Linked DNA regions of Homo sapiens: regions 1 and 2 are each reported to be linked to region 3. The links are microRNA targets in miRTarBase. Many come from high-throughput screens and were not tested one by one. Region 3 holds a microRNA gene; each other region holds the end of a gene's coding sequence.
The links. The annotated mature microRNA hsa-miR-548at-5p reads AAAAGUUAUUGCGGUUUUGGCU and lies in region 3 at 1,702-1,723, shown strand. An mRNA with a match to its seed (bases 2 to 7 or 8) in the 3' UTR can be bound and repressed. Matches are read on the target gene's strand: a 7mer-m8 pairs with bases 2 to 8, a 7mer-A1 pairs with bases 2 to 7 and ends in A, and an 8mer does both.

Region 1 (4,354 bases), not on the chromosome of region 3:
TTAGGCTGTCATCTGTTGAATGCCACATGGTTACAGATCATGAGTGGAAGTGCAGAGAAAATACAGACTCAAGATACCCACTAAAGTTTTTTTCTTTTTTATTGTAAATTGACTATTTATAATTGTATAGATTTATGGGTTCTGTAAAGAGAGAGTTGTGTGGGGAAAAAATTTATGGGGTACAAAATGATGTTATGATTTGTGAACGCCATATGAAATAATTCAGTCAAGCTAGTTAACATACCCATCACCTCAAATACTTAACTTTCTTTGAGGTAAGAACATTTGAAGTTTACTTAGCAATTTGAAATGTACAGCACTCTACTATTAACTATATTCACCATGCTGTGCAATAGAATGCACAAAAAGAGAAAACATATTCTCCCTGTTTGAAATTGTATACCCTTTGCTCATCACCTCCCCATCTCCCCCTCCTCCAGCTTCTGTCACCACAATTCTACTCTCCACTTCTATAAGTTCATTGTTTTAACTCCACATATAAATGAGAACATGTGGTATTTGTCTTTCTAGCCCTGACTTATTTCACTTAGCATAATGTTCTCCAATTTCATCAATGTTGTCACAAATTTCAGGATTTCCTTCCTTTTTTTTTTTGAGATGGAGTCTCACTCTGTCGCCCAGGCTGGAGTGCAGTAGTGCCATCTCAGCTCACTGAAACCTCTGCCTCCAAGGTTCAAGCCATTCTCCTGCCTCAGCCTCCCAAGTAGCTGAGATTACAGGCATGCATCATCACACCCAGCTAATTGTTGTATTTTTAGTAGAGATGGGGTTTCACCATGTTGGCCAGGCTGGTTTCAAACTCCTGACTTCAAGTGATCTGCCTGCCTTGATCTCCTAAAGTGTTGGAATTACAGGTGTGAGCCATTGCACCTGGCCAGAATGTCCTTCTTTTTAAAGGCTGAATAGTATTCCATCATGTATATGCAATACATTTTTTTAATCCATTCATCTGTTGATAGACAGAGATTGATTCCCTAACTTGGCTATTGTGCGTAGTGTTGCAATGAACATAGGAATGCAGATATCCCTTCCACAAACTGATTTCGAGTCTTTTGCATTAATACACTGAAGTGGGATTTCTAGATCATATAATTCTATTTTTAGTTTTTTTTCGGGGGGGGGTGGAATTTCCATACCATTTTCCATAATGGCTACACCAATTTACATTTCCACCAACAGTGTACAAGTGTTTCCTTTGCTCTACATCCTTACCAACACTTATCTTTTGTGTCTTCATTTGAAAACATTGTTTTGAAATAAAGTACAGGATGATTAAAAACATAATAATAAACATTTTAAGACGTTGTGACAGGTGAGAGATTATATCTTATTGTGGTTTTAATTTGCATTTCTCTAATGATTACAAGAAGAAAGAAAGAAAGAGAGAGAGAGAAAGAAAGAAAAGAAAGAAAGAAAACATAGGGGAAACATATAAGACATTGGTGTGGGTAGTGATATTTTGGATTTGATCCCGAAAGCATGGACAACAAAATTAAATATAGACAAATGGTATCACATCAAACTAAAAAGCTTCTTAGTTCATGACGTGTAGCTAAAACAAACAAACTAAAAAGCTTCTGCACAGCAAAGGAAATAATCACCAGAGTAAAGAGACAGCCTATGGAATGGGAGAAAACATTTGCAAGCCAGACATCTGACAAGGGTTTAATATCCAATACATATAAGGAACTCAAACAACTCAATAGCAACAAAACAAACAAACAAAAAAGCAATTAAGACCTGCTTTCTGCTGACAAAGTCTTCTTCCTTACCCCTCCCTAATAAGAAGGAAGAAAAAAGGCAATTAAAAAAATGGGTAACTCCTCCTTAGTACAGTGGTAAAACTTAAACATTAAAAAAGTTTTGGGGCCAGCTCGGTGGCTCACACCTGTAATCCTAGCACTTCTGAAGGCCAAGGTGGGCAGATCACCTGAGCCCAGGAGTTAGAGACCAGCCTGGGCAACATGGCAAAACAGTCTCTACAAAAAAAAAAAAAAAAAATTAGCTGGGCTTCATCCATGTTTGTGTCACTGCACCTGAGCATAGGTGACAGAGTGAGACCCTGTCTCAAAAAAAAAAAAAAAAAAAAAGCTTTAAGTTGTAAAAATGGGTAAGATCAAAAGAGAAGGAAATAAAAAAATGTGTAAGGAAGCTGAACAGACATTTCTAGTGATGTTTTTAAAGCTATGAACCCATTTTGGCACAAAGGCTTTATCATATGCAGTCATTTACAAAATTTTTTTGTAAAGCCATCATATAAAAGTGTGAATTTTCTCACCTGAGTACATGACAAGAAAATGCTGAAATCAATATATAAATCAAATCATCTGTACTGGCACTGTTAATCTAGAAGAAGGTGGTTGCATAGAGAATAGCAAGAATTTAAACCAGCTTATTGAAGTGTGAAAAGAAAAAAAGAGAGAGCTTCAGAGGTAGGCTTTGCCTCTTAAAAAAATTAAAAATAGCCGGGCGCGGTGACTCACGCCTGTAATCCCAGCACTTTGGGAGGCCGAGGCGGGCGGATCATGAGGTCAGGAGATCGAGACCATCCTGGTTAACACAGTGAAACCCCGTCTCTACTAAAAATACAAAAAAATCAGCCGGGCGTGGTGGCGGGCACCTGTACTCCCAGCTACTCGGGAGGCTGAGGCAGGAGAATGGCATGAACCCAGGAGGCGGAGCTTGCACTGAGCCGAGATTGCGCCACAGCACTCCAGCCTGGGCGACAGAGCGAGACTCCGTCTCAAAAAAAAAAAAAAAAAAAAAAATTAAAAATATAAGTCACTGTCAGTGTTGTGCTTGGGAGTTAGCAGCCAAAAACAAACAAACAAACAAAAAAAGAAGTCATCGTCTGTGAAAAGAAAAGAAAAAAAGAAAAAAGAAAAAGACTTTGCATCCATTGAAGTATGCAGCAAAAGAAAACAATTTTTAAAATAAAATAAAATGGGTATAGTTGGGAGCTTAGCAATGGTCATACAGAATGGAGTAATGGACACTGGAGGCTCTGAAAGGTGGGAGGATGCCAGGGGGATGAGGGATGAAATCCTACCTATTGGGTACAGTGTTCACTATTCTGGTGATGAGGATGCATATTTCACCACTATGCAATATATCAAAGCAACAAAACTGCACTTGTACTCCTAAATCCATAAAAATAAAAAATTATCTTGGCTGAGACATCTTTAAAAAATAATAAAATAAAAAAATAAAAATTTTAATAGAGAGAGAACAGTAAGAGCAGAGCAAGGACCTTAGTCTATACTTTCAAATGGGCTTGATCATTTGAAACAATAAAGTTGTTCATTGAATCTTCACAAAGTATTATAAAAAAGTTGTTCATTGGCAGAATTTCCCAACAAGTTAGTATAGATTACATACTCTTTGATAAAAGCAACAATAAAGTTAATTTTTTTTCCTCTTTAGTATTTGCTTTAAGAGAAAAATCCTAAATTTCTTCAGAGGAGGAAAAAAAGAGAGGGAGGGAGAAATCATTAAAACTTGTAGAGATTTCCGATGCCAGTAAACCATGAAATATGAAAGTATATTTAGCAATCATGGTGATTTAGCTCATGGTAATTGGCATATGTATAATTATAATTTGCATTCCAGTTATTTAAACTGAGATATTCTTGATCAGGTTGAACACACTGTGAATAGAAGATCTCTTTCCCCAGGAAATAGGATGGAGAGAGTCTTTGGAGAATGGCCTCACTGAACTGGTAAGTCAGCTTCCTCCGGATTTTGGTAATTTCCCCACTTCTTCCGTAATTTCTGAGTGCCCTGGCCATTTTCTGGTAAGTCATGGTCTTCCTGTTGCCTTTTCTTTTCCCCCAAAGCTCGGCAAGTTTTTCTTTGTTTTTTGATACAAACTGAAAGATGCCTTTGGTTTTATCTACCCACTGAATACAAGATGCCATCTCCGGATTATACAGGGATTCGTGAAGGTATTCAAACAGTCGGAGCTTCTTCCTGCCTAAAATGAAGGGAAACAAGGTCAAACTCCACCGTGGCTGTAAACCGAGAACATCCTCAGAAAGGGTTTGTTGAGCAACTACTGAATTAAAAGCTGCATCGAGACTGGTTTTTCTCCCACTCACTGCCCTTACGAATGCATGATGGCATCATTTTATGGGATTCGAAGGTAGAGGATCTATTTGGCCTATTGAAGTTTCAACTGGATCTTTCTTTGTTGGAGAAGTTGTTAAGAATGTTGCCTGGCCGGGCGTGATGGCTCACGCCTGTAGTCCCAGCACTTTGGGAGGCCGAGGAGGGCGGATCACTTGAGGTCAGGAGTTCACCAGCCTGGCCAATATGGTGAAATCCCGTCTCTACT
Region 2 (4,354 bases), not on the chromosome of region 3:
ACAATCTTAAATTCTTGCCCAGTGTCAAAGCAGGACTTGTAATCCACATGCCAACCTGCTTCACAGGCTATGAGGTAAAGTTTGTAAGAGGTATCATCTCTGTTTTTTAGCAGGCTTATGGAAGAGTCTTGCCCTAACAGAAAAACAGGGATGAGGCTGGGAAGAGGATAAAGTTATAGCAGGATAAAGTTATAAGAAGATAACAAAGCAGGATGACATCACATGGGACCAAGAAGGGGGCTGCATCATCCCTGGACCTGCTCCTGGGGGCTGTCGGATTGTGGGCGTGGCCGCTTTGGATGCCCAGGTGAGCCCTGACACAGAGGTGCTTCCTCACATTACAGTGAGGAGAGGATGGGGCCAGTACAAAGACTGAAGAACCAGCACTCCTCCTGGGTCCGTCTTTGCTAAGTTGAGTCATCCCAGCCCAGGCTCAGATGATGGGCACTGTGGACGGAGAGAGACCTGTCTTCCAGCAGGCTTCTGTGTGCGTGGCTGCTGCAGTTTCTGAGGGCTGACCCAGTTTTCTCATCTCTGGACTTTATACCTTCTTTGTCCCTAAATAGACCACAACACCACTCTGTGTTCTCTGCAAGCCTGGGGCTAGGAAGCATCGCTGAGGTAAAGGCCTTTTTTAAGGTTCTCTGCCAATAACAAACACGTCTTCAATTATGAGAGCAGTACTCCATGATCCTGAATCTCTGCCAACCAAAAGAAAGCTGTGCACACACTGCTGAACTTTTACAACTCTACAACTCAGAGGACATAAGGCATGTGTAAGCCAGCTGTAAATCTCGTTGACAGTCTTGCCCCACCCACTGGCCACTAGGCAGCTGGATTTCCAATTTCACCCCGGACACGGCCAGCCTATCAACCCTCTCTGCTTAATGCTCTCAGTTCATTTCTCATCATTTTTCTACCTCCACTCACCAGGCCACTTACCCTCCCTTCCTCCTTCCAGCTTCCTGAGCCCTACAGAGATAACAACTAGCAGAGTGCACCAGCACGTACATTGGATTATCCTTTTCATTGTGTCTGAGCCAATCTGCTTAATGTTCAGATACACGTGGGGAAAAAAAGGCAAAATATTTTTGTTTTAGATCCTTTCAGAAGGCACAAAAAAATAAAGTACAAACACGAATCACTTGACAATTTTATGATTAAAACCAACAAATGGAAAACAGACAGTGTTGGGTGTTGCTGACATAATCAAGCATTTCGTGCGGACCCACTCAACCACCCCATTTCTTGGATCTATTTCTGGATGTACCAAATGTGTCTGAAGATGAACTCACTTTCGCACATCAAAGATGTATCCAGTGTTAAACACCGGAGCCAGAACCCAGGTGAAAATCTGCTGGTTCAGGGCAACACCACTTCCGGCTTTATTAAACACTCAAAAGTCAGGTTCCCAAGAAACGCTTGGATCTATGCGCAAGTATAACATGTCAAAACTGTTAAATGTGACCATGAGAAAAATGACATGAGCATGTTTCATCTTTGGGTAGAGGGTGGTGGTTTTCTGGGAAGACACTGTCTGAGACACCGAGTAGAGAAGTCAAATGGAAGACGTTTAGCATGTGCTTAATTCTTGCTTGATAAGAACAAGAAATCCCGGAAAAGGTCACCCACAGAACGGTAAGCAAAGTCCCCAGTGAACAAGTTTGAGGTGGGGCTTAGCAGTTTGTTTACAGTTGTGGAAAACTGTTTTAGTCACTTGGCCAAAAACCATATGAGGGGAGGCAACCTGAAACCCTAGACTACTTGACTCTCCCTGCATTTTTCTGCTAGAAGCAGGATAAAAGGCCTAAAATTTTGGCTGCATCTCTATTTATGTAACAGCCACAGCTGCTCCCCAAAATAGCTGCTGTTGGCCAAAAGAATTACGGGATTTTGTTGCTAATATGTGAATCTATAGTCAATAGCACTCTGCTAAGTTTCCTTCCCTTCCCTTTTGCCGTCCCAGGTCTAAAAGGAGATAGGGAATCTCATTATTTGCACATCAATGGTGCCATCAGTTGGATGTGGATAGATTTTAAAATCGAGGCTCATCTTTTCGGCAAGAGCAAATTGACATAGAACATCTTAACTCTCCACCTTCTGCAGGCGGCAGTGTGGCTAATATTGAGGCCCTTCAAAGTCACAACTCCAAAAGAGAGGAACATACAGTGCTCCTGTGATTTTGTGGGACAAACCCAGACCCGGACTGCTGGCGTGGCATTTAATAGGATGCCCTCCCCTGAAAGTAACAAAGAGAACCCTCGTCAAAGCTATCAAACACATTAAAAAAATACAAAAGTTATTTTCTCCTTTTGATTGCTATTTACTTGTGACAATATTTGTTAAAAATATCACTTCTGTCTTTGAGAAGAGATCATTCTCTTCATATAGTATGGAAAAATAAACTCTGCTGAACACTCAGTCAACATTCCCCACCACTGCCAGGGGCTTTTGGCTTTCACATCTCCAAATACCATCATCAGCATAAAAGTATTATGTTTTTGAGTAGGCAAACACTTTTGCTATGTCTAGTGTGCTGGAAGTAAGAGAAAAAGGAAGTGGCAAGGCTCATGTAGCATTTTGAAGGGGGAGAGTTACAAAATAGGATGGTTTATTTGCTAACAAAATGAAAGGTAACAAGGTGGTTTCAGGCCTTCCTAAAAAGTCATAGGATGTCCCCTCACCTCTTAGACCACTTTCAGCCTTGCTAATGCTTGGTAGATTCTTAATGGAAGGGTAGGGAGCCCTATAGGCTAATTATCAGTGTCAATGCAAAGGAGGGCTCAACTTCTGCACCCAGGATCATCTTAAAACACTGAGCTGGATGAATGGGAGAAGACAAGGATCCATAAAAACAGTAAAATGTTTATTTTCTTAGAAAAAAAAGTGAGGAAGAGGGATTCAAAATGATTGTGATCACACTTCCATCTGCATCTGAGCAAAGCCAATGTTGCAAGCTTAATTCTTGATTAAGATACCTATTAAATCAAACAACCTGCCACTCACTCCTACGTCACTTCCAGGAGTCACATCACAGCATGCTTTTAATTGATAATAGCTTCTCTACTTCTTCTGAGCAGAGAAACAAGGCTTGGCATAGCAACCATCCCATCTCCAAAGCTCAACACTGCCAGTGAGAAGCAAGGCTCAGTCCATCTCTAGACTGCGTGCGAGAGATGGGGAGGAAGGAGAGAGGGCAGGAGATGCTTGTCTTAGAAGCAGAACCAGTTTAGAAGAGAAGTTTGTTATCTGAGTTCACCACTACCTCATCTTATAGAAAATAGGTTGGAGAGCATCTGTAAAACCAACAGTATCTTTAAGGTGAAATTGCAGAATTTTGCTGCATACCTGGACACAAGAGAAGTGAAAAGTTGCAACAAGTTTTAACTAGCAGCAACAAAGAAAGTTCGATAACAGTTTTTTTTGTTTGTTTTTAGCAATATTCCTTTGCAAGTTCATTAAGAAACACTGTAATTTAATGGGGCGTACAATATGGAACGATCTTCTTTTGCTATAGTGCTGTTCGCTGAATAGAACCGACCTTTGCAAAGATTTCAACTGGGGTGTAACCTATTTACACAGTAGTAGCTCCTGGTTTGAGTGGTAAAATTGGTGCTATGTGATATCCTCTTCTTCCGAACAGTAATCCCGACCCTTGGAGGGAAAAAGAAAAAAGAGCATGTGAATGAGAAATTCAAAGCAGAGCCTGAAATAGTTACTTGTAATCAATTTTCTCTCAATATATGTCTCCTTGCAACAGAATCCAGGCTTTGTCAGTGATAGCTGGCACAGGGGTAGCTACGTCATAAATACATGTTAGCCAATTTATAAGCTATATATACTTCAAGGCATGACAGTTTTACCAAGCCCCAAATAAGCCCTTACTTTATGTTGGTAAGAATTTATATTATAACAGCCATATTCAAGAGTCAGCCTTTCACTAAGAAATTACCAAATGGCCAATCCATTCAGGAGATCAATTTCTTATCAGGAAGAATGAACAAGCCACATTCTACAGCTACATCCCCGTGCCTGAAAATCAACATTCTACAGACAGCATACAATCCAGGGATGTCTGAGTTTAATTCACTCTAAAACGGATTACAAAAAACAACAAACAAGAATCCTTAAACACGCATAACAGGTCTGTGCTTGGTATGTGTGGGATGCACAAGAAAGGCAAAGATGCTTCTGATTCATTTGCTAACTAAAACAGGTTATCTGAAGCTCTAAGGACTATGTACAATGGTTATTTGTGAACATATTTTATCCTCTCTCCTCTAGGTCATAAACTCAATGAAGACATGATTGGGGCTGGGCTTTAAGGATCCACATTTAACCGAGCTGGCTTGTC
Region 3 (4,000 bases):
ACCTGGACTTCTCTAGCAAATCATTTGCAGGAACTGTTTTAAGCAAAATGTTTCTTCTAAGATGTCTGATATTTTTAAATGGCTTTTTTTTTGGCTTCCCTGTTCCAAGGTTAGACAGAAAAAATGTAGCAAGTATTGGCCACTTTAGGTACAACACAGATTTCTCCTATATTTGGAGAGTTAATTATTAAATCAAGAGTGTGAGTATTCATTTTCAGTTGGAGCCCTATGGAAGAACTGCTTTGCTCTGGGCTCTCTCCATCTGTACGTTATCTGATATTTAGCTTTATATCACTGGGACATGGTTGCTGCACAAAGAGAAGACAGCTGGCCTGCCCTGGGAGCAGGGTCCCACGAGTTACAAGAGAGTCAGAGAACAAACCAATGTTGTCAAGGTTACACCTTCATTTCCACTGTTCTTTGTTTGAAATGTTATCAGAGCTGCCAGGCACAGTGCCTCATGCCTGTAATCTCGGATATTCAGGAGGCTGAGGTGGGAGGATTGCTCAAGGCCACAAGTTCAGGACTAGCTTGGGCAAAATAGTGAGATTCCATCTAAAAAAATATTATTTATCAGTAATTTTAAAACAAAATTAACTGGGCATGGTGGCACATACTTGTAGTTCCAACTGTTTGGGAGGCTGAGGTGGGAGGATAACTTGAGTCCAGGGGTTGCAGGCTGCAGTGAGCTGTGATGAAACCACTGCACTCCAGCCTGGGTGGCAGAGAAAGACCCCATCTCTCTTTTAAAAAAAGTTATCAGTAGCTCAAATTTCATTAGCTACTTTGTGAAGATGTGTTGATTCTGCCATGAAAGATTTTCTCTGAGAGTCCTATCTGTCTGGCAGCTGGGGAGTAAGTCACCTTATATTGATCTTAAGATTATGGAAGCCTGGGCACGGTGGCTCACGCCTGTAATGCCAGCACTTTGGGAGGCCGAGGCAGGTGGATCACTTGAGGTCAGAGTCGGAGACCAGCCTGGGCAACATGGTGAAACCCTGTCTCTACTAAAAATACAAAACTTAGCTAGGCATGGTGGTGGGCACCTGTAATCCCAGCTACTCAAGAGGCTGAGGCAGGAGAATCACTTGAACCTGGGAGATGGAGGTTGCAGTGAGCCAAGATTGAGACATTGCTGGCTGACAGAGCAAGACTCCATCTCAAAAAAAAAAAGGGGGGTGGGTATGGAAAAGAATGTAATATTTGTGGAATTGCTATGGTTTAATGTACTTTGTATTTTTCTTTTTTTGGTTTCTTCATAGCTCCGTATACTATTATCACGTTCCCTTTTCTATTTGCTGTGATGTTTGGAGACTTCGGTCATGGCATTTTAATGACCCTTTTTGCTGTGTGGATGGTACTGAGGGAGAGCCGGATCCTTTCCCAGAAGAATGAGAATGAGGTAATGTTTAAGTTACATCTGCATTGAACTGAAATTTTATAATTTCCCAAGCATTCATTATGAAAATTATGATCTGGAAGTCTTTTATCCATGAATTTATCAAAAGGAAGTAGAGAAGTTATGTTCATTTTAACACCAAAGACGACATGTGCAAGCTGGAAGTGGTAGTGTGTGCCTGTAGTCCCAGCTACTTGGAGGCTGAGGCAGGAGAATCACTTGAGCCCAGGAATTCGAGACCAGCATAGGCAACATAGTGAGACCCCATCTCTAAAAAAATAAAAATTATTTAGGTTTGGTGCAAAAGTTATTGCGGTTTTGGCTGCCAAAAGAAATGGCCAAAACCGCAGTAACTTTTGTGCCAACCTAATAAAAAAATAGAGGCCACATCCTGTGAAAGTGACTGTCTCATTAGCATTGTATTTTGGTTTTTACTTCAAGCTCTCTGAATCAGGATGGGGTAAAGTAGTGCTGGAGAAAGGGGCAGGTATATTCTGAATAACATTGTCACAATGTGAGCTGCAGTGAGTACATTCTCATTACTTCTTTCTTCTGGTTCCCAGATGTTTAGCACTGTGTTCAGTGGTCGATACATTATTTTATTGATGGGTGTGTTCTCCATGTACACTGGCCTCATCTACAATGATTGCTTTTCCAAGTCTCTTAATATCTTTGGGTCATCCTGGAGTGTACGGCCGATGTTTACTTATAATTGGACGTAAGTTGCAGAAGAAGCTAAAATTCAAAGCTTATTCCTTTCATGTGCAGCCCTGATTTTTAAGACAAGTGGTAAACTGACACTTCTTTAGGAAGTGGTGACAGTGTCTCCTCATTCATGCTCCACACTGTGAGTTGCTTTGTGATTTGTTCAGCAAGTATCCAGGAACTAAGATTAGAAATGATTTTTTTTTTTTTTGGAAACTAAAACCAGATTCCCCAGTTCCCTACTTGATTGTGTGTTTGTGTGTTTAATTTTTCTTTTTGTCATTTTGGATCCCTCAGTCTCAGCTGCTAGTCTCTCCTCTTTATTTTTCCCCTCCCATTTTATTGAAGAGACAAGATAGCTACAGTAATTTATTTTGGGGTCAGTTTCTGGACCCTTGTTGTTTCCCTCTCTTGTTCAAAAATAATGTGACTTTTTCCCTGTCATGGTAGTGAAGAGACGCTTCGGGGGAACCCTGTTCTACAGCTGAACCCAGCCCTCCCTGGAGTGTTTGGTGGACCATACCCTTTTGGCATTGATCCAGTAAGAGGACTTCCTTCCTATATGCTAACCTCAAATTTTTTAACACTAACCCTGAAGCAAGAGAATTAAAATGAAGATAAATAGTTATGTGGGCTTTCACTGGGCATGGTCGCTCATGCCTGTAATCCCAGCACTTTGGGAGGCCGAGGAGGTGGGATCACCTGAGGTCAGCATGGTGAAACCCTATCTCTACTAAAAATAAAATATTAGCCGGGCGTGGTGGCGCATGCCTGTAGTCCCAGCTACCCGGGAGACTGAGGCAGGAGAATCGCTTGAACCTGGGAGGCAGAGGTTGCAGTGAGCAAGCTGCACTCCAGCCTGTGTGACAGAGCAAGACTCCGTCTCAAAAAAAAAAAAAAAAAAAAGAAAGAAAGAAAGAAACAAACAAAAATAGTTATGTGGGTTTTCGTTGACATATTTTTGGGAAACCTTGATGTATGTATTCAGAGGACTTCTAAGCCATAAGAGACCCAAGTGCCTTGAGGAGCCACATACTTTTCCCTGCGCTGCTTATTTCTGAGGTGGTTAATAATATCGACTCTGGGAAGATTGATTTTTCAAGACTCCTTCCCATTTCTTAATTTATTTCTGCTTACTTAGTTTGGTTTTTTATTTTTAGCAGACATTTTAGCAAAGCAGAAATATATTTTTCCTGTGGATTTTAGACTTGCATTCTTATATTTACGAACTTACAAAAACTTATCCGAGAATTAATTTTTTTTTCAAATGCTTAGGCAAATTAAGTATGATCAAGTCTTCTTTATTGTGTGCTGTAAAAATGGAGTGGCGGCAAGAATGTAATACAGGGCATCTGACTGCTGAGGAAAAAAAAAAATAATACAGGCTGGGCGAGGTGGCTCATGCCTGTAATCCCAGCACTTTGGGACACAGAGTCAGGTGGATCACTTGAGGTCAGGAGTTCGAGACCAGCCTGGTCAACATGGTGAAACCCCATCTCTACTAAAAATACAGAAATTAGCTGGGCACGGTGGCATATGCCTGTAGTCCCAGCTACAGGAGGCTGTGGAAGAATTGCTTGCGCCCGGGAGGAGGAGGTTGCAGTGAGCCCAGATCGTGCCACTGCACTCCAGCCTGGGGGACATAGCAAGACTCCATCTCAAAAAAATAGATGGAATGACAGCACCACAGGGCTACAATCAGCGAAACATAGACTGTGGGAAAATATATAAGATAAACAACCCAATTTCTTCAAAAGAAATTTTGTAATGAATGAAAAAGGAAAGATGGAAGGAGAACCTGTAGTTTAGAGACTCAAGAGATATATCTACAATCATAATGTATAAGCCAGGCACGGTGGCTCACGCCTGTAATCCCAGCACTTTGGGAGGCCGAGG

Region 1: miRTarBase lists SPIC as a target of hsa-miR-548at-5p. Seed matches in the 3' UTR shown: 8mer at 3,419-3,426.
Region 2: miRTarBase lists C1orf21 as a target of hsa-miR-548at-5p. Seed matches in the 3' UTR shown: 7mer-m8 at 2,296-2,302, 8mer at 185-192, 8mer at 169-176 and 7mer-A1 at 76-82.

Annotation. Positions count from the first base shown.
Region 1 is chr12:101,485,984-101,490,337 of GRCh38, reverse strand. SPIC (Spi-C transcription factor) reads right to left here. Exons shown (of 6, transcript NM_152323.3): 6 at 3,341-3,994. The coding sequence ends at 3,567. Among named protein-coding and RNA genes, the nearest start is that of SPIC, 13 kb to the right of the region's middle.
Region 2 is chr1:184,618,818-184,623,171 of GRCh38, reverse strand. C1orf21 (chromosome 1 open reading frame 21) reads right to left here. Exons shown (of 6, transcript NM_030806.4): 6 at 1-3,654. The coding sequence ends at 3,616. The region is part of intron 2 of LOC107985236 (a long non-coding RNA gene); the gene reads left to right. Among named protein-coding and RNA genes, the nearest start is that of EDEM3, 130 kb to the left of the region's middle.
Region 3 is chr17:42,493,072-42,497,071 of GRCh38, forward strand. It overlaps MIR548AT (microRNA 548at), which reads left to right and starts at 1,702; the gene lies at 1,702-1,759. ATP6V0A1 (ATPase H+ transporting V0 subunit a1) reads left to right here. Exons shown (of 22, transcript NM_001130021.3): 12 at 1,263-1,402; 13 at 1,963-2,117; 14 at 2,555-2,645.